7 linked regions of the Homo sapiens genome follow. The protein of the gene in region 2 interacts with the protein of the main gene of each other region in a pairwise test. Each region holds a gene or a part of one and is shown on either strand. Other genes may lie near its edges.

Evidence for each region.
Region 1: the proteins of PFDN1 (region 2) and CEP126 interact in a two-hybrid assay, tested with the Homo sapiens proteins (one large-scale study listed by BioGRID and IntAct).
Region 3: the proteins of PFDN1 (region 2) and GIT1 interact in binary tests that used the Homo sapiens proteins (3 or more experiments, as listed by UniProt).
Region 4: the proteins of PFDN1 (region 2) and EDRF1 interact in a two-hybrid assay, tested with the Homo sapiens proteins (one large-scale study listed by BioGRID and IntAct).
Region 5: the proteins of PFDN1 (region 2) and PTN interact in a two-hybrid assay, tested with the Homo sapiens proteins (one large-scale study listed by BioGRID and IntAct).
Region 6: the proteins of PFDN1 (region 2) and CCDC85A interact in a two-hybrid assay, tested with the Homo sapiens proteins (one large-scale study listed by BioGRID and IntAct).
Region 7: the proteins of PFDN1 (region 2) and SYNDIG1 interact in a two-hybrid assay, tested with the Homo sapiens proteins (one large-scale study listed by IntAct).

What each region holds. Positions count from the first base shown.
Region 1 is NC_000011.10:101,981,010-101,984,509, forward strand, and holds part of CEP126 (centrosomal protein of 126 kDa), read left to right. Parts: intron 1-879; coding exon 880-955; intron 956-3,500. UniProt on the Homo sapiens protein: Participates in cytokinesis. Necessary for microtubules and mitotic spindle organization. Involved in primary cilium formation.
Region 2 is NC_000005.10:140,293,102-140,296,601, reverse strand, and holds part of PFDN1 (prefoldin subunit 1), read left to right. Parts: intron 1-3,500. UniProt on the Homo sapiens protein: Binds specifically to cytosolic chaperonin (c-CPN) and transfers target proteins to it. Binds to nascent polypeptide chain and promotes folding in an environment in which there are many competing pathways for nonnative proteins.
Region 3 is NC_000017.11:29,579,649-29,583,148, reverse strand, and holds part of GIT1 (ARF GTPase-activating protein GIT1), read left to right. Parts: intron 1-111; coding exon 112-224; intron 225-345; coding exon 346-451; intron 452-808; exon of another isoform or gene 809-1,004; coding exon 1,005-1,222; exon of another isoform or gene 1,223-1,312; coding exon 1,313-1,407; exon of another isoform or gene 1,408-1,768; coding exon 1,769-1,811; exon of another isoform or gene 1,812-3,044; coding exon of another isoform or gene 3,045-3,358; intron 3,359-3,500. Other genes in the region: TP53I13 (tumor protein p53-inducible protein 13), read right to left, coding at 3,045-3,358. UniProt on the Homo sapiens protein: GTPase-activating protein for ADP ribosylation factor family members, including ARF1.
Region 4 is NC_000010.11:125,733,209-125,736,708, forward strand, and holds part of EDRF1 (erythroid differentiation-related factor 1), read left to right. Parts: intron 1-195; coding exon 196-343; intron 344-426; coding exon 427-535; intron 536-863; coding exon 864-975; intron 976-2,435; coding exon 2,436-2,696; intron 2,697-3,500. UniProt on the Homo sapiens protein: Transcription factor involved in erythroid differentiation. Involved in transcriptional activation of the globin gene.
Region 5 is NC_000007.14:137,333,734-137,337,233, forward strand, and holds part of PTN (pleiotrophin isoform 1 precursor), read right to left. Parts: intron 1-3,500.
Region 6 is NC_000002.12:56,186,990-56,190,489, reverse strand, and holds part of CCDC85A (coiled-coil domain-containing protein 85A), read right to left. Parts: intron 1-3,500. UniProt on the Homo sapiens protein: May play a role in cell-cell adhesion and epithelium development through its interaction with proteins of the beta-catenin family.
Region 7 is NC_000020.11:24,588,129-24,591,628, forward strand, and holds part of SYNDIG1 (synapse differentiation-inducing gene protein 1), read left to right. Parts: intron 1-3,500. UniProt on the Homo sapiens protein: May regulate AMPA receptor content at nascent synapses, and have a role in postsynaptic development and maturation.

The sequences.
Region 1 (3,500 bases), on a different chromosome or scaffold from region 2:
AATAAAGAAGGAGGTAGACCATATTCAGGGAAGGGAAGTTGGTATCTCTCAGAAAGTGTTAGATGTGTACACTTTTTGCCAGTGTTCTGAGACTTCCGTTTTCAAGGTTCTGTGCAGCATTGGGGCAGCTATTTGTGTTTTAAGTTTTGTCACGTAAGATAATTACCTATCCTTGGCATTAGCTGTAGTCAGATGCTTTTAGCTAATAGTTATGATTCACCCTTACAATGACAAACCAACTAGGTTAGAAACTTTAAGGTAATTTTTTACCTTTTCTTTAATTAGCACTTTTTTTTATTTTTGAGACAGAGTCTCGCTCTGTCACCCAGGCTGGAGTGCAGTGGCACAGTCTCAGCTCACTGCAACCTCCATCTCCTGGGTTCAAGTGATTCTTCTGCCTCAGTCTCCCAAGTAGCTGGAACCACAGGCACGTGCCACAACTCCTGGCTAATTTTTTATATTTTTAGTAGAGACAGGGCTTCACCGTGTTAGCCAGGATGGTCTCGATCTCCTGACCTTGTCATCTGCCCACCTCGGCCTCCCAAAGTGTTGGGATTACAAGCATGAGCCACCGTGTCAGCCTAATTAGCACTTTTGATTACCATCCAACTCACTTTACCTCTTCCAAATATCCAGGACAATATCATAATCTGAAAATTTTTTTGTGGACATAAAACATTTTTCATAATATTCCATTACCATAGAAATTCTTTATTATAATAATTCTTGTATTCAGCTCTAAAAAATGTAATATACAAGTTACATGAACAATTGTAGCTAAAAATATATACAGCAATTAAAAGTTTTTTAAAAGTTCATGTACATATTATGAATTTTAAATATGGAAATATGTTTTAATTCAATATTCTATTTTTGTAGAATTTTGGACAAAGTGTCCTGCTAAGTTCAAGTGAGCCAAAACAAACTACAAGGGGTACTTCTTATATTGAAGAAGGTATGTTTTAGTTTAAACATTTTTCTCTGATCTTTGTTCCCAGTGATTTTTTTTCTTGTATGCCTATTCTCAGATGCTAACGTATTATGTAATTGTTAAAGCACCATTTAAAACCTGAACTCTCCTCACCCCTGCACATCCAGGTCATTGTCAGTGTTCCTTTATTCTAAATAATAATGTATTGAACATCTTTCTACATCAAGTTATTTTCTGATTTTTACTTATTTCTGTAGGTTAGATTTCCAGAATTAAAATTACAGTAACTGACATGTAAATGCCACCCAGTAAATATTTATTGAATTAAACTCCATGTATTAAATGAATACTGGATCAAAAGAAATAAGCATTGATATGGCTGTTCATATATATTGCTAAAGTATTTTCCGGAAAAGTATTATTCAAAATTGTTCTAGTAGTGTGTGTCCAGTGGTGTATGTCAACTTGAGGTAGAATCTTTTCATATTTGCTATAGACAGAAAAATAGTATTATATTAGTTTTGATTTCTATACCTTTCATTAATATTATGCTTAATTGCTTTTCTGTGTATTTTTTGGTGAACTGTCTCTTTGTACTCTTTTTTCTTAGATATTAGAGTTCGAAATTTTCTTACTGATGTCTGCAAATTATTTAGCTATGAAGGATTCTAATTCTTATATTAGTTGAAGATGTTTCATTACTACTTGCATGTTATTCTACTTATATTGTATTTTCACATATATTTTAATTTGTATCTGTTCATTCAGTAAATGATTATTGAGAGCTAATCTTCTGCTTACAAGTAGGTATTGGATATACATGTAGAATATCCCTAATCCAAATATTTCAAAATCAAAAATGCTCCAAAATCCAAAATTTTTTGACCCCTGACATGATACCACAAATGGAAAATTTTACACCTGACTTCATATGATGGGTCACAGCTAAAACACAAGCTCATACCATACAGTTTATTTAGCATCCCCAAGGGGAAAAAAGATCCTCTCAGCCCTCTTCAGCTGCACTATATCTTTCCCATGCACACCCAGATTCCCCCATGTAAGCATGCTCACAAGGAGTAATAAAATGATACATGTACCAATGGCAGATTCCCCACGAGACCCCACATGGGGCCAAGACCTACATGCATTACTCACTGTATTTTTTTGCTTTTTCTCTGCTTTGTGATGTAAAGATATTGTTGAAAATATCAAAAAGACCTGAAGATACCCCTGTGGGTAGCAGTGATAAGAAAAAGAGGAAACATTTCTGTTTATCAATAGCCCAGAAAGTCAAACTTGGAGAAACTACACCAGCAACCTAAGTGTAAAATGTCTTATAGAAAAGGATGGTGTTGGAATGACCACAATATATGACCTGAAGAAACAGAAGGATAAACTGTTGAAGTTCTGCTTTGGAAGAGATGAACAGAAGTTAATGCAAAACATTAAACACTGCATAGGATTTCAACCATGAAGTCAAAGAGTGGATCCATCAGCGTCGCATGAGCACATGCCACTTAATGGTATGCTGATCATGAAACAAGCAAAGATCTATCATGATGAACTGAAAATTGAAGAGAACCATGAATATTCAACAGGCTGGTTATAGAAATTTAAGACACAGCATTATTTTTAAAGATTTGTGGTGATCAAGCGTCTGCTGATTACAAAGCAGCAGAGAAATTCATTGAAGAGTTTGCCAAGGTCATCGCTGATGAATATCTGACACCAGAAGAAGTATATGTTACTGATGAACATCACTGGTTTGGTGTTGTTACTCAAAAAAACATTGACTATAGCTGATGAGACAGCCCCTACAAGAATTAAGAATAACAGAATAACTGCTAGGATGTGCTAATGACTCAGTCACGCCCAAGTGTAAATTTGCTATGATAGGCAAAAGCTTGTGTCCTCACTGATTTCAAGGAGTGAATTTCTTACCAGTCCATTAATGTGCTAACAAAAGGACATGGATCACCAGGGACATCTTTTCTGATTGGTTTCACAAACACTTTATATCAGGGAAGCTGGATTGAATGATGACTGCAAGATTTTGTTATTCTTTGACAACTGTTCTTTTCATCCTCCAGCTGAAATTCTCATCAAAAATAATCTTTATGCCACGTGCTTTCCCCCAAATATTACTTCATTAATTCAGCTGTGTGACCAGACTATCGTTAGGTAGATGAAGAGTAAATACATATAAACACTTTCTTGAACAGCATGCCAGCAACAGTGAACAGAGATGTGGATGTAGAAGGTTTTCAAAACGAGTTTAGCATGAAAGATGCCATACATGCTGTTGCAAACACTTGGAACACAGGGACTAAAGACACAATTGTGCATTCCTGGCACAACCTCTGGCCTGCAACTATGTTCAGTGATGATGAACAAGGTAGTGACTGAAGGATTCTGTATGTCAAGTGAGAAAAAATTATGTCTGACCTCATTACGTAAGCAAAAAAATATACCTTCAGAGTCTATCAGTAAGCTGGAAGAAGTGGATATCAAAGAGGTTATTAACATCGATAATAAGACTCCAGGTGTTTTCATTGACCAATGATGA
Region 2 (3,500 bases):
TGGCTGGCAATATTCCTCTTTTCCTTGTGAAATTCTTATCCTTCAAGACATAGCTCTACTCTTACTTTGCCTCTGAAGATTTTTTCAGCCCCTGGGGCAGACTCATTCACTCTTTCCTTGGCGATAGTAGGGCTTTTGTTCCTACAGCTAGTAAAGCACATTGAGTGTGTAGGTGTGTTTAAATGGGTCGGTCTTCCCAGCCAGATTGTCAGCTCTGGGAGACCATGTATATATATTATCTTTGTTTCCTCATTCTCAGTATAATGTCTGGCACAAAATAGCTATTAAATGTGTATTGATTTGAATTGAATCTGATTCTTTTTTCTGGCCTAAAATAACTTTTTTCTTTTGGTTTCTTAGAAAAAAAAGTATTTTAGAAAGTGTTAGAGACTTAAGAATGAGTTTATTATCCTATTTTAATATATGATCCATGTAAGATGAAATTATAAAAGTAACATATATTTTGACTAAGGTCAAAAAAATTATATCTGACCAAAATCACGTCCTCTGATCTGACAGGATTAATTCTTCATTAAATATATTGAGAAGGTTGTCTAATTCTAAATACCAGCCAGTTGAAGAGACACTCAGAACTAAAAATATAGAAAACCCAAACCTTAAAGATTATGCTTGAGGGTAGTATAATCCTTAGAGAATAAAGGCTATTTTATGCATAATAATATCAATGTATTTTTATCCATTTTACCTTCCTCATCTTCACACAGAATGTAAGTCAGATTTTTTTTTTTTAGGGTATGTATTTAGTTAAACAAATCATTGCAGACCCAGATATCTTTCATTTCATAAGTATGGACACATTTTGTAGTGTTAAATACCTCTTATACATGGCTATTTTTGGTTTAAAACAAGGAAAGTCAAGCTACAGGATAAGAGATGATGAATTGCTATATACTGTAAGCTCTGAGTATTTGTTGCTCAAAGCTATATTCCATCCAGTCTTTTGGCGTGTTGCCAGCACATTTTAGTTCTCTTACTTCATCTTCTTTAGAGAGGCTGTTATGTAGCCTGATACTACTACCACCAATTTCTAGTTTTGCTACTTAAGCTGTTTGTGAGCTGACCTCACCATACTGCTTTGAGAACTATGATGAAAGTTACAACTGGGGAATGATCTGTCTGAGTATTTGGAAGTGTTTGTCTTTGCATCTTTCTAGCATGCAAGGAGGGAATAGACAAATCTTAAATGTTATGTGAATATTTCTTGTATATATTTTTTCATGGATAAAAATGTTTATAATTGCTTGTGGGGGTTTTCTTCCTTTTCTACTTTGCATAGTAGAGGATAGGAGTATTTTTAAAATAAGAATTATATTTGAAAGTGCATATAAATGACATTTAACCATACTAGTGTTTGAAAGGACCATCATTAGAATAAATGTCAAACTTACTTTTATGAACAATAAGTATGATCCTAACCCTGATTTGATGTCAGATCTATTATTTGAACACCCTTTTTGCTTGAGCATTACATAAATAACATTTCTTTTTTCCAAAAGAGACAAATTAACTTTTTTTTTAATATGAGGAACTTGAGTAGATTAGCCTTTAAAAAGAACAATTAGTGCCTTTTTAAAACTTGAACCTAACTAAAAATAACTTTGTACCATATTTAAACTAATTTAGAGGTATGCTACCATTCTGTGGGTATTTTTTACATTTAAGGAACTAAGAATGAACAATGGTATAAATCTGCCAACTAGATAAGTGTCTAGCAATGCAAAAATTGCTGTTTGGGAGCGGTGTTACTATTTCTACTTGTTGAAGTAATTTAATGGTTGATCTCTAACGGTTGAAAGATCCAGAAGTGTAAAACTTAAGATAAATGTGGCATAAGTAGAAAGTGAAACAGTAGGTGTATTCCTGATAGGTAACAATTAAAAAAAATCTAAATAGTTAAGCAGTTTTTCAACTGTTTAGGTTGTAGAAATCTGAACTCTTTATGACAGCTTGGCTGAACTGCCCTTTGTTTAGAATGTTATGTTGGTTTTGTTGTGATTGTATTTCTTAGTTTGGATGTTGACCTATAATTTGAATCGTGGCATTTAGTAAAGGTGGGATGAAATATATGCAGCTTCCCTTAGTTATGTTAAATGTTAATAGAAAGGGGTATGCTCATACTGCTTCAAGTTTTGCAGCCCTTTTACAATTTCATGTAGCTATAGAGTTGGTCTTCCAGTCAATTTCAGGTAATTTTAAAACTGAAGAAATGGTCATACTATATTTTATTGCTAAGAGATTAGGAAATGAAATTTAAAAAATCTTAGTATAGTAAATATTATTGATATTGTTGATAAATACTGTTGATATTACAGTGAAAATAGTTTATATTGTTGCTCTCAGCAGAATCAAATTTGGATATTTTATTTAGTGCATACTACAGGGGAAAAAATAATGTGTGAGATTACTTTTGGTGTGAGAGTCACATTGCAAATGCCAATTTATAAATTCATTTTATACCCTCTTTAAAGGTATTAATCTGTATTTTAGAGAAAGTGAAGCAAAGATAGTTGTCAAAAGTAAGATGAGATTACTTTTTAGATTTTACTTGAAGAAAGAGAAGTTCTTGGTGTTCAGCTGCTTTTACTAATAGAACATGACCCACCCTTCTTGTGTTTTTATACAGAGCCATTTAAAGTCATGGCTTTCATTGCCCAGAGTTCTAAGGGAAAACAACAACATCTTTTCCTGTTGTGCAGGGAAAAATGACTTAAGTTTTGTTGACGCTGAATATGTATATAACCCCAGATGGGCACACATTCCTCTTGCACAGATTTAGTACTCTGGGGAGAGGAGATTTTTAAGTCATATTCTTAATTTCCTTAAGTTGTCAGTGATTTAAAAACTTGATGTTCATTATAACTCTGCTCTACTGCTGTCTAGAATGACATCACTGTTTTTGTGCCAGAGGGAGTTAACAAACATTTGCGTAAGAATTACATAGTCCTGTTTCTTCTGCAGACGAGTACTTTTTAATAATTATTTCCCTGCTTCCCCTCCCATATGCCCCAGTCTAAAGATTCTCACCAAAACACAGGAAATTAATTTTGAAAATGTTATGCTAATTAGATGTCTATTGTTAAAAAAGGGAAAAGTCTGTTATCTTGGAGAGTACAAACATACTAAAATAAACTTGCTATGGGGTTACTTATTTTAGGCTTTGGACCTGTTTTAAAAACATAAATGTAATTGATTCATTTAGCTACTTGGTGGACTTTGCTTGCTTCTGCATTTCCTGACATCAAAAGACCTGGCCTTTTTTTTTTTTTTTAACTGACAAAGGATTAAACAAAATCAGCCTTTGTTGTATGAAAAGTAGCAGTCATTTGCGGGATACTACAGTGTTTTCCAGTCAATGATAAGCAACTGAGCGAAAGGTGAAAAGTACCATTTGCTTGCTGTTCCTATGTAAAAATATTAAGGTAGCAGCAGTCTTGAACTGTTAACTTTGTCACTGAGGAATTGTGTGCTGTAACTGACTT
Region 3 (3,500 bases), on a different chromosome or scaffold from region 2:
CCCCTTGGTACCGTTTCCAGCTACGCCAGCCACAGCAGGCGCTCAGGAAGTGTTTCCCCCATTGCTTAGCACGCAGTGGGCACTCTCTCACTTGGCATCTCTTCCCTGCAGATGGTGCACACGCTTGCCAGCAACGGGGCCAACTCCATCTGGGAGCACTCCCTGCTGGACCCCGCACAAGTGCAGAGCGGCCGGCGTAAAGCCAACCCCCAAGACAAAGTCCAGTGAGTGGGGCTGGAGGGGTGGTGGGCAGAGACTGCGCAGTCCGGGACAGGGCCCTGGGAGGTGGCAAGGTGACCACCCTCTCCCACCATGCTCCCCATTCCTCCTGTGTGCCCCATGCAGCCCCATCAAGTCAGAGTTCATCAGGGCCAAGTACCAGATGCTGGCATTTGTGCACAAGCTTCCCTGCCGGGACGATGATGGAGTCACCGCCAAAGACCTCAGCAAGGTTTGAGGGGCCCTACAACAGATGGGTGGCCCCCTCCTCTTCTTCCCATCCACGACTCTCTGAAGGCCTCTCCTTTGTCCCCACTGAGCCCTGGGCCCCAAAGGCAGCCAGGTCAGGGTAACAGTAGACAGGGTGGAGAGAGCAGATTGTTGGGTCAGGCCGTGTGTGGCTGAGGCTCCCCAGCAACCAAGTAGACACACAAGGCTAGAAGCCCACAGCTGCCACTCAGAAGCTGGGAAAACCTGGGGGTAGTTGCTTAGCCACTCATAGCCTCAGTTTACTCATCTGTAAAATGGGAAAGAAATAACAGCATCTACTTCATAAATAGTATCTAAGCAGGGCACACAGCACACGTGGTAGATGGTGACTGACGGCAGCGTTTATTAATTGGCATTAACCCCTAGCGGGAAGCCTCTGTCCTCCCGACATAGTCTGGTTTGGGCAGGCCTCCTTGGAGCTGCTAGGTGTCCCAGGGGCAGCCAGGGTGCAGCTTGTGGGTGGGGAGGTGCGCCTCACGCACATGCGTATTCACTGCACACTCTGCTCCTCTTAGCAACTACACTCGAGCGTGCGGACAGGCAACCTGGAGACATGTCTGCGCCTGCTCTCCCTGGGTGCCCAGGCCAACTTCTTCCACCCAGAGAAGGGCACCACACCTCTGCACGTGGCTGCCAAGGCAGGACAGACACTGCAGGCCGAGCTGCTTGTAGTGTATGGGGCTGACCCTGGCTCCCCTGATGTTAATGGCCGCACACCCATTGACTATGCCAGGTGAGGGTCGGCTGAAGGGTGCAGTGTGGGTGGGTGGGGGTGTGGGTGAGGGCTGCTGCTGCAGGTCTGAGCCATACCCCCTCCTCACAGGCAGGCGGGGCACCATGAGCTGGCGGAAAGGCTGGTTGAGTGCCAATATGAGCTCACTGACCGGCTGGCCTTCTACCTCTGTGGACGCAAGCCGGGTGAGCAGAGCTTGGGGGGCGCCTGGCTGTGACAGGCCTGGCTGGGGCTGGGCAGGTGGGACCTGGACGCACCCGGCAGCAGGTGCCATGGTGACAGAGCGGCTGGGGAGCAATGTTGCTAGGCAACTGGCTCCTGTGAAATTACTGCAGGCTCTGGGCCATAGCATCGCTGGGGCTAGGGAGTGGGGGTGGGCATCCTGCATCCTCCCACGAGCTCCCAGCATTCTTGGGGGTGGCCTGCCCTCCCCACTTTCCCCTGACACTTCTGGGTGCCAGCCCTGCTCATGGCAGTGAGGTGGGCTCCCAGCTGCTGAGGCCACCCAGCACTAGTGAGTGACTTGGCATTTTTATTTTTGTTCAGATCACAAGAATGGGCATTACATCATCCCACAGATGGCTGACAGGTGAGTGCCCACCTGATGCCCCTTTCCAGAGGCTGTTGGATGCCATGTGGGTGGCTGACCCCCAGAGCTCCCAGCCCAGGTTTCAGAGGCCTAGGACCCTGCTCCCTCCCCCCAGAGACTAGAGGCACAGCTTAGTCCTCAGTCCCTAATGCTGGGCCCCAAGGCAGGTAAAAAATGTCAGCTCCATATGTGGCCCGCATAGCCTGAGCCCCGTGACTGTCAAGTACATGGAGGGCTTGGGTGTGAGAAGCTACCTGTGGGCCGGGCGCGGTGGCTCACGCCTGTAATCCCAGCACTTTGGGAGGCCGAGGCGGGCGGATCACCTGAGGTCGGGAGTTCAAGACTAGCCTGGCCAACATGGAGAAACCCCGTCTCTACCAAAAATACAAAATTAGCCAGGCGTGGTGGCGCATGCCTGTATCTCAGCTACTCGGGAGGCTGAGACAGGAGAATCGCTTGAACACAGGAGGTAGAGGTTGCGGTGAGCCGAGAGCACGCCATTGCACTCCAGCCTGAGCAACAAGAGCAAAACTCCAAACTCCGTCTCAAAAAAAAAAAAAAGAAAAAGAAACAGAAGCTACCTCCGGCTGGGAGGGTGGGCCACTGGGTTCTGTCCCAGTGGCACCGACCCCACTGTCTTTAGAGAAGCCTCTGCTCTTCGCTGAAAAGATGGGTGGGCTTCAGGGATGTGACTAACTTTGTGACTGCTGGCTAGGCCTCTAGCGTGCTCAGAATTAGGCACGTGCGCTGAGGCTGGTTGAATGAGGTGTTTCTGCTTCCGTCTGAGAGGCAGTGTGGGACACCCCCTGCCACTCACCCAGCACATAAGATGGATGCTGGTGCCACCTGGTGGCCACCTCTGATGGCCATGTCCTCATGCCAGGCTGTGCCTGCTGGCCTGGATCTGGAGAGAGGAGGTGCTCTCCTCCCCAAGGGCCTGTGTGGGCAGATGGGCATAACCAGGCCTGGGCGACTCAGATCCTAAACCCAGACCTCTTCCAGACCCCAAGGCTCCTACTTCTATGGTCTGATTCTACCTGGGTTGTGTGTGCATGCGTGCATGTGTATGGTAAATACACCCAAATATGGGCTCCATTCAACAGCACATTAACTGAGCACCTTCCCGGAGCCAGCTACTGCTCTTGGCACTGGGAGCACAGAGGCAGCTGAGACACAATCCCTGCCCTTAAGGAGCTCACAATCTAGCTGGGGAGGCAGCCTAGCCAGGTGATTCTAGTCCTCATGGGGGAGTGCAGCAAGAGAGGCAGAGGCATGGAGGGTAGAAATGCTGCATGGGAATGGAGGCAGCCCCCGGGCTGGAGCACAGCATGGGAGGCAGGGAACCCTACAAGCAAGACTGGGATAGAGACGAGCTGGAGAATGAGCAGCCCCGAGAGCATCAGCAGGAGCAGTGACCATCCCGAGAGCGGAGAGTTCCAGGCACAGAAGTGTGAAGTCATCTCTGCTGCTTACTGGCTGTGTGACTTGCAGGCTGCTTGACCTCTCTGAGCCTTGGTTATCTCTCCTGGAAATGGAGATGACAGCATCTATTTTTCAGGGAGGAGAGGATTAGATAAGAATGTATGCAAAATGTTTAGCCTTTTTTTTTTTTTAAGAGTTGGGGTCTCGCTCTGTTGCCCAGGCTGGAGTGCGGTGGCTTGATCATAGCTTACCACAGCCTCAAACGAT
Region 4 (3,500 bases), on a different chromosome or scaffold from region 2:
CCTTGCTGATGGGGTGGATGAGATTCCTTTGGGAGGCTGGGGCAGAAAAAAGATTAAAAACCACTGGTTTAAACACTTTCATGCTACATAGGTCTCTGTTTGCAGGACTTCTGCATTTGGTTGCTTTTTAAAAAGAAAGGTGTTGTTTCCTTGGGTTTTCTCTTAAACTGCTTTCCATCTGTCTGTATTTTACAGAAATATGAAATGATAAAGACAGAAGAAATTCCCAATTTGGAAAATTCTAATTTTTCTACTAAAGTCATAAAAGACATTGCACAGAATATTTTATCATTTTTGAAATCTAATTGTACCAAAGAAGGACATACCTATTGGCTCTTTAAAGGTAAGCTATTAATACTTCTTGAGTGAACAATAATTGATTTGGGTAACTGCTGTGAAATGAGTCTTCTTTGTTTTTCTTTTCAGCAAGTGGCAGCGATATAGTGAAGCTCTATGACCTCACTACTCTTTGTGAAGAAACTGAAGACAAATACCAAAATCCATTCACAATGCCGGTAGCCATTCTCTTGTACAAGTGAGTGCTTTAAGAATTTAAGATGAAGAAGTAGCCTATTATATAAAGTTTTAAAGCATACAGTCACAGTTTCCAAACCAAGGCTTTTAAATGCTTTTAGGTTTTCATAGTAGGGGGAAAAATACACGTACACATTGTACCAAATATTACTCAGCTTTCTTATGCCACCATAGTATAAACGTTTTGGGGGTTGTGGGTAAAGTGTAAAGTTTAGTATTTTGTTGTTTCTTATAGCTCTTTGTTGGAAAGAAACAAGAGCACTCCTAGACTTGAGTCTTGCAGACAACGATGAAATGGGCAGTAAAGTTGATATAAACTCTTTTTTTAGGGTTGCTTGCAACATGATGATGAAGAAGAATCAAAATAAGAAACACTATGGAACTATTAGAACATTGCTTCTTAATTGTCTGAAATTACTGGACAAAAGTAGGCATCCTCAAGTAAGATTAACATTTATGTATTCTCTAAAACAATCCTAGCATTCTAATAGGAGATTGTTACCTAGACAGTAAAGCCTCCTGATTCATATTCCGTAACTGCCCTATTCAGTGTGGTAGCCATTAGCACATGTGGCTGTTGATCACTTAAAATGTGCTTTGTCTGAATTGACATGTGCTGTAAGTGTAAAATACACACTGAATTTTGAAGATTGGATGTCTGTACCTATTACATGTTGAAATGCAATATTACATATATTGGATTAAATATATTTAAGTTGATTTCACAGATTCTACTTTTTAAATGTAGCTACTAGAAAATTTAAAATTTCTGTATGTGACTCATGTTACATTTCTCTCAGACAGCACTGCTCAATGAATTTAGAATTCATGTAATTCTAACAGTAGTGCCCTTAGTTCTTTGTTTTGTCGCTATTAGACCTTGTTACCACTTTGTTAATATAAATAGGGTTCACATTCCACACTTCAGGATATTAAAGCATCTCTTAAATAAAGGCCAGTAAAATTTCTTTTAAAGAGAAGGGGAAAAAGCATCTCTTAAAATATTCCCTCAGTCATGCTCCCAACAGTTTTACACCATCCTTACCCTCGGTTGTCTGATTGACAACTTTATTTTTCACTGTTAAGGCTATTTGTTGTATCCTGTTCAAATCAGTAAAGGTATGTAAGATACGCAATTTTTCTTTGAAGAGCCAAAGTAATTTTAATTGTAGCCACATTTGATTTAGAGATAAAGATTATCCTAGAGACCAAACTCAGAAATGTTTTTGAAGAAAAATAGTAAAACATTTTGTTTCTGACTGAAATACCTAATTGCTGACTGAGGTGGCAGTGTTTAGTGGAACTTGAGTGGTTTATTTGGATGTTAGAAATGGTGTTAAAGACTATTGTCTGTGATTAAGAACTGATAAATAGTAGAATGGGTTAAATGGTCATATATAAATGCTAATTTTAAGAGATATCAGAATGGACTTTTCCCTTTTTAATGTAATGGTTTTTTTTTTCTAGAACCATAGATTATATGATAAATATTAGTTACCTATTATAGAGAAACTTGAATTAATTTATAGTTTGTAAAGAAAAATTCTGGTTTCTCACTTGGCATAGGGTGGTATTAAATTTTTGTTAATATTTTAGTTATGACACTCTGTACTCAAAAGCTTTTGTTTGTCTCCAGTGAAATTCAGTTGACACCTTTTAAGAGGGAGGGCTCAGGGTGGAGTAATTTCGGGAAATAGGAAATGCATCAGCCTATAAAGATTTTGCAGAGCATACCCAGAGTATCAGTAGCTTTGAACTGGGAACATTTCTGTGTGTGTTACAGTCTATATGGTGGAAACAGCCTGTGTGCAGACCTCCTCCTAAAATTCGTTAGTATGGTAGTAAAATTCATGTATTTTTTGATGACAGTAATTTACACATATTTCTCTCTTTTTCATAAGATTATTGCTTCCGCCAATTACATGCTTTCAGAACTTTTTCAATTGGATGAACCTAAAAAGGAAGAAAATTCAGAATCTCCTTTAAATGAGAATTCTGATGAAAGTTATAGTGAAGAGGAGGAAGAGATGCCCGACAGTGATGAAAATGGATCCTATAGCACCAGCTCTGATCCATCAGATGATAGCAAAGCAGTAGCTATAATCAAGTCTGTTGGAGAACTATCAGTACCAGAAAAATACAAATCTATTCATCAAATCAGAGTAAGCCTTTAGAATTTATATTAAATTTTTATCAAGGAAACATAATTGTTAATCGAATATAGTTAGCCTTTCAAAAGATACCATTACTTCAATAAACCTTTCATGGTCTAGCATCTAGTAATCATTAGTTTTCTGAATTCTTAAAGTTGGTTTTATAATTGTTCGAGGGTAACTGACCCACATTATGCAAGCCTATAGTGGACAGGTGTGTAAACCAGGTGTCTGTCTATTCTTATGTGAAGGATTTTCCTTTCCAGTGACCAGTGTGTAGTCATAGTCATGTCTCATTACTAGGGCACTTCTATCCGGTGTTGGGGTTGCTGGGAAATGACATATATAGATTGCTTGGTGAACATAGAGTAGAGAAGGGGGTGGCTCTTGGAACTGTATATGGTGAGCTCTGGTACATTATCCCTGTGCTATATAGGACAGTACTTTTTTCGTGACTCTTGTGGTCATGTCTGTTGTATTGGACATGTCTCTGCCCTGGAGAGGGCCAGACAGATTTCTCCCTGTGTGGATTGCACTGACTCTACCATCAGTGTATCTCCAGGCAGTATATACCTTTCAACATACCGTCTCCCTATGATTAGATCCAGGCCAGCCTTAAGAGTTCTGGCTGTTCCCTGAACTGAAATACAGTCGTATTTACAGATAATCTCTTAATTTAAGCACTGAGTGTAACTTTCAGATGGAAACTCTAAGCAAGTTTTTGAGGGGCTATGTCTGTCACCTTAAAACATTGACCATCTTTCTGACCTTCACTTGCTCCATTGGTTTGCCGTGGCCATGCTGGGTTTTTTT
Region 5 (3,500 bases), on a different chromosome or scaffold from region 2:
GTCAATTCTAAGCCAAAAGAACAAAGCTGGAGGCATCACGCTACCTGACTTCAAACTATACTACAAGCCTACAGTAACCAAAACAGCATGGTACTGGTACCAAAACAGAGATATAGATCAACGGAACAGAACAGAGCCCTCAGAAATAACACCACATATCTATAACTATCTGATCTTTGACAAACCTGAGAAAAACAAGCAATGGGGAAAGGATTCCCTATTTAATAAATGGTGCTGGGAAAACTGGCTAGCCATATGTAGAAAGCTGAAACTGGATCCCTTCCTTACACCTCATACAAAAATTAATTCAAGACGGATTAAAGACTTAAACGCTAGACCTAAAACCATAAAAACCCTAGAAGAAAACTTAGGCAATACCATTCAGGACATAGGCATGGGCAAGGACTTCATGTCTAAAACACCAAAAGCAATGGCAACAAAAGACAAAATTGACAAATGGGATCTAATTAAACTAAAGAGCTTCTGCACAGCAAAAGAAACTACCATCAGAGTGAACAGGCAACCCACAAAATGGGAGAAAATTTTCACAACCTACTCATCTGACAAAGGGCTAATATCCAGAATCTACAATGAACTCAAACAAATTTACAAGAAAATAACAAACAACCCCATCAAAAAGTGGGCGAAGGACATGAACAGACACTTCTCAAAAGAAGACATTTATGCAGCCAAAAAACACATGAAAAAATGCTCACCATCACTGGCCATCAGAGAAATGCAAATCAAAACCACAATGAGATACCATCTCACACCAGTTAGAATGGCAATCATTAAAAAGTCAGGAAACAACAGGTGCTGGAGAGGATGTGGAGAAATAGGAACACTTTTACACTGTTGATGGGACTGTAAACTAGTTCAACCATTGTGGAAGTCAGTGTGGCGATTCCTCAGGGATCTAGAACTAGAAATACCATTTGACCCAGCCATCCCATTACTGGGTATATACCCAAAGGACTATAAATCATGCTGCTATAAAGACACATGCACATGTATGTTTATCGCGGCACTATTCACAATAGCAAAGACTTGGAACCAATCCAAATGTCCAACAATGATAGACTGGATTAAGAAAATGTGGCAAATATATACCATGGAATACTATGCAGCCATAAAAAATGATGAGTTCATGTCCTTTGTAGGGACATGGATGAAATTGGAAATCATCATTCTCAGTAAACTATCGCAAGGACAAAAAACCAAACACTACATGTTCTCACTCATAGGTGAGAATTGAACAATGGGAACACATGGACACAGGAAGGGGAACATCACACTCTGGGGACTGTTGTGGGGTGGGGGGAGGGGGGAGGGATGGCATTAGGAGATATACCTAATGCTAAATGACGAGTTGATGGGTGCAGCACACCAGCATGGCACATGTATACATATGCAACTAACCTGCACATTGTGCACATGTACCCTAAAACTTAAAGTATAATAATAATAAAAAAAAAAGAATGAAGTTTTCTAAACACTTTTCATTAGCTTTTAAAGCAAATGAAGAAGGCAACATTTGGATCACTTACACCCTCTCCGAGAAAGACCCCAGCAGAAGCACTGGTAAGGAGGCCCAAGTGCAACATCTGGCCAGGGGCTTTTTACACTTAAGGGAACTTCAGTGAAGTCAATAGCAAATCAGGTGGTGTCTGCAATTTTCTTTCATAAATAATCATACATTGTAAATATTATTTGGTCACAAAGATGTAAGTTTTAGAAGCTTTTGCATATAACATATTGACAATGATCCTCATCATTTTTATTAAGCTATGGACATCATGACTGGAGCATTCTGATTTGTCTCCTGTTCCCTCAAGTTTGTTGAATTAAACTGTTGTGGCTTGCTACTCAAAGAGAGGTCGCCAAGCTAGCAGTACTGCAGTCACCTGGGAGCTTGGCAGAAAAGCAGACTCTGAGATTTCATTGGAGACCTACTGAATTTTGGCAAAGACCCTGGGTGACTGGTATGAACATGAAAGTTTGAGAAGCACAGTTATCCAGCTATCATGTAAATGAACTGCTGTTAGCCAATTACTAAGGCTTATATTTAGTGAGAATAACCAATTAAAAAATGTGACATGTAGCTTTTAAGACACTTCAGAAGGAAATATAACATAATCTGAGGTAAAAGAAAGCATGCCTGTTTCAGTTCAGCCTCATTTAAGATGTCTTCTCGCTTTTTTTTTTTTTTTTTAGTATGACTCATTTCTTTTTCTTCATTCCTGTCGCACATCTTACCTCCTCCTCACTTTGTGAGTCAAACTTACCTTCAAGCAACTTAGGCAATCTCTGTGTGTCCTGAGAAAATGACAATGACAATAGCAGGATTGGGAAACCAGAAAGGCAGAACTTGCCCCACTGACTTTATTAAGTTCAGTTCATGTTCAGTATAACAGTTTAGAGCTTACAGATGTTGCGTCGTGACCATTGACATTTACCACCAACCTATGAGGTTGGCAAAACAAGTAACATCATCATCATTTCCCACTTAGAGCTAAAAAACCTAAGATTTCAGAAGATTCAGTGGCACATCCAGCAGCCCATACCAAACAACAGGCGGACTGTGGTGAGATGCTGGTTCCTGACTCCAAACCTTAACTCCTTCCCTGGACTGAAGCCTCTATCAGCAGGGGTCAGAGAGAATGTGGTTATGAGCATCACTAAGGTCAGCAATAAAGTGCCTGTCTCTTGGATTGGGAGTCTTCTGTATGCAAAATGCTCTCCTATACCTTATGGGAAGGGATAAGGTCAAAGAGTCTGCATCGGAGACTTTGCCTGCCCAACCCCCAGGCCTTGAGCATGATCACATGCTCCGTATGTTTTCTTCCAGAAGAAAGGATTTTCAATCTGCATTTAGAGAGAAGGAAGAAAATGGTATGAGCATGTGGAGGGGCGAGGCCTTTCAAGAAGCATGGAATTCCACCTAGGATTTTGCTTGTATGTTTGTTGCAGATGCCAAGTGGGCATGAGAAAGAAAAGCAATTCAGGAGGGGGAAGAAGTGAGGACTTGCATCTGGTGCTGCTTCACCATGATCATCATTTTCACCATCCTGCTCAAACACTCCCAGCAATCAGACTCTATGTTCAGTACTTCACATTGATTTTCTCAATTACTACTCAGACGTCAATCCTGGAAGGTAGGTATGTGCTCCCATGTTAGAGATGAAAACACTGAAGTAAGAAAGACCACAATATTTGCTCACGGTCACAGAGCTACTAAGAAGTGCAGTGGTTTATACCTCAGTATTTTGGACCTTGGAGCTCAAATATTGAGCGATTAAGGCTACTGTTTCTAATGTTTCATCCGTATCCACATGCCCTGTCGTATGTCCAGGGTCCTTGATTCCACCTCTTAAATCAGAACTGCTGAAGATGGGCTCCAGGCAGCTGGAACCTACACATGACGCTAGTTAATCTGATAAACATTGAAGACAGGGAACTGCTGCTGTAGGTTATTTGACCTCTAACTGTACATACATTGG
Region 6 (3,500 bases), on a different chromosome or scaffold from region 2:
TGACCATTCATTCTAGACTACATCTTCTCTAGAGTCACAAGAACAGAGACCTCATCTATGTACTTCTGTGTATGGAGAACACAGCACTCCCTGCGCAAATACCTGAAGCCAAGGAATTTTTAAGATGACTAGTAGAGTTCCCACCTATTCTCCATTTATGCATACAGTCAAGGAGCCAGCAGTTCCTTGAGGCACTGTAGTTTGGTAAGGATGAAACAGGGGCAGCTACAGGGCTGCTACCTAAGATTTCACTGCTTCAAAAAGCCTGAAAAATCTTTGGTCTTGCGAACCGATCCAGAACTAGAGGTACTCAGAAAGGGGGCTGAATTCACTTACACTCAGGCTGATTTCAACACTGCCCTTAACATAGACTAAAAAACAAATTATAAAACACCTGTCAACCACATCCTCCACTTCCTAAAGTCATGGGAGTGAATTTGTGGGTATTAGGAAGAAGCTTATGCAGCTTAGTTTCTAACTCCAGTTCTAATTCTTGGCATCACCAACAACTCTGTTCCTTTGCTTCTAATTCCCACCTCTCCTTTTTGCTTCTCGTTGCCACTTTCTGTTTTCAGGCCTGACCTTTGCCAACAGCCTCCCAGGCAGCCTCCCTGCCTTTGTTTGCACCATCCACTCCTTCCCCTCACCCACTAGAACACAAGCACTCCTCAATCAGACCTTCAAAAATACTCCCTGCTATTCATGACATAAAGATGGCAACAACAGAAACTGGGGGCTCTTAGTGGGGTAGGAAGGGAGGTAAGGGTTAAAAAACTATCGGATACTATGCTCAGTACCTGGAAGATGGGATTAATCATACCCAAAACCTCAGCATCACACAGTGTACTCTCCGAATCTAAAATAAAAGTTGAAATTTAAAATAAACAAAAAACAACAACACCTGGGTTCAATGGCTCATATCTGTAATCCCAACACTTTGGGAGGCCGAGGTGGGCAGATCACTTGAGGTCAGGAGTTCAAGACCAGTCTGGCCAACGTGGTGAAACCTGTCTCTACTAAAAATACAAAAATTAGCCAAGCATGGTGACACGTGCCTGTAATCCCAGGTACCCAGGAACCTGAGGCAGGAGAATTGCTTGAACCAGGGAGGAGGAGGCTGCAGTGAGCCAAGATCACGATACACTACAGCCTGGGCAACAGAGTGAGACCTTGTCTCAAAAAAAAAAAAAAACACCAAAAATACCCCGTGCATGTTTTGCCTCTCCTGTTTATCAATCCCCATCACCTTTCCTTTGCCAGGGAAAATGAATAAGACCCTCAGCCAGGCCTGAAAGGCTGTCCCTTGCCTTTCCACCTTTAGTTGCCAGCTAATTATGAGCTATGATTACGTCTGTGCATTCCAACTAGAAAATATCATCTTCTACCCCATATGAACCTAAGAGGAGAGATTCCTCTGAGAAGTTTCCCCCGGCACAGAAAAGTACCCATGAATGAATGAATGAAGTAACTTTCCCACTCACTGTTTAAGGCCTGTATCACACTCTAGCTAGAACAATCACTAGACATCAATTTTTTCTCCTTTCTAATGTGGACATCTTAGCTTCTGGAGAGCAGGGTCTATTCCAAAAGTCTTTCTTTGAATATGCAACATATCTGGCATGGTGCCTTGCATACAGTGGACACTCAATATGTGTTTATGGACTGATCAACCATATAAAGCTCCAGGCCTCTGGCCAAAACAGGCTACAGCTATAGCTACTGAGAAGAATTTCTTATTGTTTTCAGCAAGCACTAGCTATGTCAGAGCCTACAGTAGTAAGAAAATAAACTATCCCTTGATACTGATGCTTTACAGGAAATCAGAAGCTGTGGATATTTGGAGAAAACAATAACAAAGAAAATTAATCTTTCTAAGCTCCAAAAATTATTCAACATTTAGTTTAATCCTGGCATTTGATAGAAAGCTCAAGTCATGTTCTCTTTCATCTAAACAAATTTTCATAGGAAAATACTTCCCTTTGACTATGCTACAGCTACTTCTGATTTCTCTAGAGCTGGAAAGTAAACAGGACTGGTGCTACCCTCGGCTTCACGGAGCTAATGCCTTTTCCAAAAGGAGTGAAACATACACTTCTCAGCACTCCAGATGGAGTAGATAGGAGTGAGTATTGGCCCACTCCCATTTCTATATCACAGTTCCCTCTTTCTATTATTAGTTTTCTTGAGAATATTATTTACTATTCAGTTCTGAGCTATTTCCTTTGCCTTCTGATGAACAGCTAAGCAGCCAGCTTGATAATAACCTTGTGATCCAGCTTCTTCAAATCTGCCTCACTAAGACTTGGGCTTTCTTTTGCAAAACACTAGGTGTCCTTTTAACATTGCCACCGGCCACCAGAAATTATCCAAGTGTCTAAGTGGACTTTTAAAAGGTTAAGTCCACTTCGTAGCACACCAACCAAAATTTCAATCTTATGCCTGAAGACTATCAAGTACTGTATCTACAGTTAAATAATTGTTTTAATTTGTTATTTTGCTTCACTGCAGAGCAGGGTGGTGGGCGGGTCGGTGGTTGGGTTAGGAACCAAGGAGGGAAATTAATGCAATGAAGAAAACAAATCTACAGAGATTCATCCCGAATCAGCCCCCAACTGGGATACTGGGTCAGAGCAGCCTGAAGTGTTGGTATATGCTCAGCAGTCCAAAGACATGGTTCTCAGGAATCCAGTTCCTTACAACATAACCCTAACTAGAATCTCCCTCATCCACCCCTTCCAGGACCACACATTCTAAGCAAAGAATGTCAACTAGCCAAAAGAAAAGGAAAGCAGGCCGATTTTGAACACTTTATGTCTGTGTGACCTTGAGAAAACTATCTAACTTCACTGGGGTTTCTTCATCTATGGTATATTTCATCCTCATAAAACCTCATGTGGAATTAAAATCCCCATGAGCAGATGAGAAAACCGAGAGACAGAGAGTTTAACAATTGGCCAAAGCTGCCCAAATTATCAGAATCCAAATTCTTTATCTTTCCACTTCTCAGGGCCCCTGCACTGCCCTGCCTCCCAAATATCTAAACACAAACAAGTCAATCAGTGCTAGGACCCGGCCACAGGCCCCTGAAAAGTAAAGAACTGATGCTGCCATCTCCTGTGTCCACAGCTACAATAACACCTGGTAGCCTTACAAATATTTAGATGCAATTTCAAAGTCAGCTCATAGAAAGAGGCATAAAAAAGAAAATGTATTATGGTCTTAATTCCCCTACATTTATAGTTCTCAACTGAGAATGCCAAGCCCTCAGACGCTCCCCCACGCCCTTAACAAAAAAAAATACTTCTTTTCTTCCAGTTAAGCCAAAATAAATATATGTACCCATCATTTATTCAATCAACCACATTTATGGATTACTATGGTGTCCAAGGAAGCTCTGAGCCAAAATAAAAAAGAGAAGGGAGAAGGCTGGCCTCTCCAAAGAGTAAAACCACAGCACACCCAGGGTGGGCCAGAAGCCTGGGAGTCCGCTCCTTGCAGCA
Region 7 (3,500 bases), on a different chromosome or scaffold from region 2:
CAGTGATGTTAAAATGATTTCCAGGGTGTGCGGTTAGCTGAGGGTTAGAGATGAAGGCCAGTGAAAGTTCCCAGGAGGCACCTGCAGAGCAGCTGCTGCTGGTCGTGCCCTGCTGGAAACCTGAGTTCTCCAGGTGCTGGGGGTCCAGAGGCCAAGGAACACCTGGAAAGACACAGACACACCTTTCCCAGCAGATTTTGCTAATTCTAAAAATATGTTCATGAAGTAGCATAACAGTAGTAATCAAAGTGTTAGTGAGGTGGGTAACATTGGCTGACCACCTACTGTGCGCCAGGTTCAGCGCTGGAGCCATGCACCCTTGCTTCCAGGATGTGGTCCTGGACCCCCTAGGCACTTGCTAGAAATGCACACTGTCTGGTCCACCACACACCTGCTCAGTCAGAGTCTCTGGGGCAAAGCCCAGGAATCTGCATTTTGAGGAGGCCTCCAGCTCCTCATGGATGCTGCTGCCATCACCCGGGAGGGGCCGTGGTGACCTGTGCTGCAGTCTCGGCTGGGAATCTAATAAGAAGTGGGAAGCTGCGGGATGTCTTTTGGAAGAAATGACCCCTGGGCTTTGGTTGTGGTGTGAAAGGAAGAGGGAAGGGAGGGATGCCCTGGGTTCTGATGTTGCTCGGTTGTGAATATTGCTGTCTTACATGCATTATCTCATAGGAACTCCATGACATGGGTGCTGAAATCAGGGTTCAGTGAGATTGAGAGATGTGCCTAAAGCCAACATTGGTGAGCAGTAGGCTGGAGCTAGCAGGATGTGCAGGTTCGGAAGCACCTGCCTTCTCTGGGGGAGGCATCTGGCTTGTCCCTGAGCTGTGGGGTGGGGGTGGGTGGGCAGATGAGGGCAGCATGTTGTCTACAACTTCATTTTGCCCAACAATGTTCCATCCAGCCCCCATTGCAAGCACGCTTTGTAAACCAGTTCATACAGAGGAGGATGTGGGTGTGTGCGATTAGGGTGGTGTGGCTTCATCTAGGAACTGACATTTGTGAATGATACTGAGGATAGACATGAATCCCATAATTGGCTGAGTGGCTGCTGTCAGCTAGTTAATGCACACACTTTATCTTATTTAATCTTTGCAGTGAGTCCAGAAGGTGGAAAATTATTATCTCCATTTTACAGATTAACAAAACTGAAGTTTCAAGGGATTTAATAAGTAACAGAAATCACAGAGGTAGCAAGTATGGGCACATGAGGGAAATATTAATATTTCTAACCCTTAAAGCCATATTTTCTGCAATGTAGCTTTGACTTTTATCTGTTTGCAAATGAAAATAGAACCACAGTCCTTGCTTCTAAATTCACCATCCCCCCACCCTGCTTGGAAAGGCTTGCAGGGGAGGAAAGCCTGTCTGAGCATGGTGTGGCATTGGTCTTCATGGCACTTCACTCCATCCCATGTGATGGGGGCAGCCGGGGACCAAAGCCAGATCCCTGCCCCCAAGGTGGGCATTGGGCCTGGACCTGCGCCGGGCAGGCCCGAGGGTTCCTGTGTTGACTGTGCTGGCAGATGTCTTTGCATCCAAGCATTTATTATGTCTTGATCTAATTTCATTTCATAAAATGTTTCTTTCCTTTACTAACTGCAACATTATAACAATAATTAAATGAGAAAAGGGTATTAGGAAGCAGATTATGAATTTTATGAATAGTACCAGCAAAGGGAATTGGGCAAACTAGGGGAAAAAAGAGAATCTTTTTATGGTACTGAAAATCTAGAAGAGTGCAACCTAGCTAATAGCAAAGCCCCTTGGAATCCATTCATTTACCCACTGATTAGTGAACACCTCCCACGTGTTCAGTAAGTGCCAGGCATGCAGCAGTGAACAGAGCAAACCAAATCCCGCTTGTCAGAGCTAACGTGCTCGTCGCCTGCCTCTCTTCCTTGCAATGTCAGCTTTACTTTTCTCCGTTTTACTCACTGGCTATTAGCTGCGGATGGACATGGGGAGCGTGGAACTGGGAGAAACGTTTTTAACAGGGTGGCCGTGGCGGGGCTCGCGGAGAGGATGGTGTCTTCTGATAAAGCCGCCAGTTGAGCCAGGGGGAGCCCTTGGGGAGGAGCTTCCAGACAGAGAGGCCTGCAGTGCCGAGGCCCTGGGGGGAGCACGTGGGGCAGGTGGGGCCGGCGCGGCGGGGCTGGGGGCCGCGGGTGTGGAGTGGGGAATGGGGGTAGGGGTAACTAACAAGGCGGGGCCAACAGGGGCAGACCCCGAGACTCTTTAGGCTGTGACCGAGCGGGGCTTCCACTTTGGGATAAGAAGCCTCGGGGGTTTGAGCGGAGGAGAAGCCCCTGTGGCCACATGCTCCCGGGAGCCTTCAGAGAACAGGGCGGAGGGGGAGGCGCAGGGCGACGACGGCAGTGGTCAAACGCAGAACCGTGGAGTCCTGTGCTGCAGGAGTGGCTGGGAATTTCATAAGCAGTGGGGAGCTGCGGGGTGTCTTCTGGGTGAATGACCCCTGGGCTTAGGTTGCAGTGTGAAAGGAAGAGGGAAGGGAGGGATGCCCTGGACCAGGGGTTTCCTGCAGCCGGATAGGCAGCACCTGCAGCGGGGCCTCTCAACTCCAGGAGCTGTCGGCCTCTGCGTGGAGGCACTGAACCATGGGGGCTCCAGGGAGACGTCTGGGCCGAGGGTAGGAGTGTAAGGCCTGAGCTGGGGATCAAGCACCGGCGCGGTGATGAGGGGCCCGTGGGAGCATTGACCGCTGATGAGCAGCTTCAGGCATGCAGGGAGGGACAGCACCGAGGAGCGGACTCCAGAGCAAGAGGAAGGGAACCATCCAGCGATGCAGAGCTGCACTGCTGGGACTTGGATCAGCAGGCACAGCAGAGGGGCGCGGAGGGACTTGTGGGTGCTGGGGACATTCTCTTTCCTGACCTGGGTACTGGCTGTATGCTTGTGGAAACTCATTGAGCTTTATTTACACCTTCGTGTGTGTGTGTGTGTGTGTGTGTGTGTGCACTTTTCTGTAAGAATACTATACTTCAATTAAAACATTTAGAAAATGCACGTATTTGGGAGGCCTAGGGAGAAGAACTGCTTGAAGCCAGCCTGTGCAACAGACCCCATGTATACAAAAATTTTAAAAAAAAAAATTAGCTGAGCGTGGTGGCTCATGCCTGTGGTCACAGCTAGTCATGAGGCTGAGGCAGGAAGATCACTTGAGCCCAGGAGTTCAAGGCTGCTGTGATCTATGATCCCACCACTGCACCCAGGCCTGAGTGACAGAATGGGACCTTGTCTTTAAATATACATATGGAAGTGCAAAGAGAGTAGCTGAACATAGTACATCTAGTTATCTTTTTTTTTTTGAAGAGTTTTGCTGTAAATGGAGAGTGAGAAATGGGATGCTATTTAATGAGGTCATGTCAAGAGTGTTCTTTTGTTTTTTGTTTTTGCTTTTAAGTGGGAGAAATGATAGCATACTTGTTCATAATGAAAATGACCCAAAAGAGAGAAAAATAGATGTTGTGAAATAC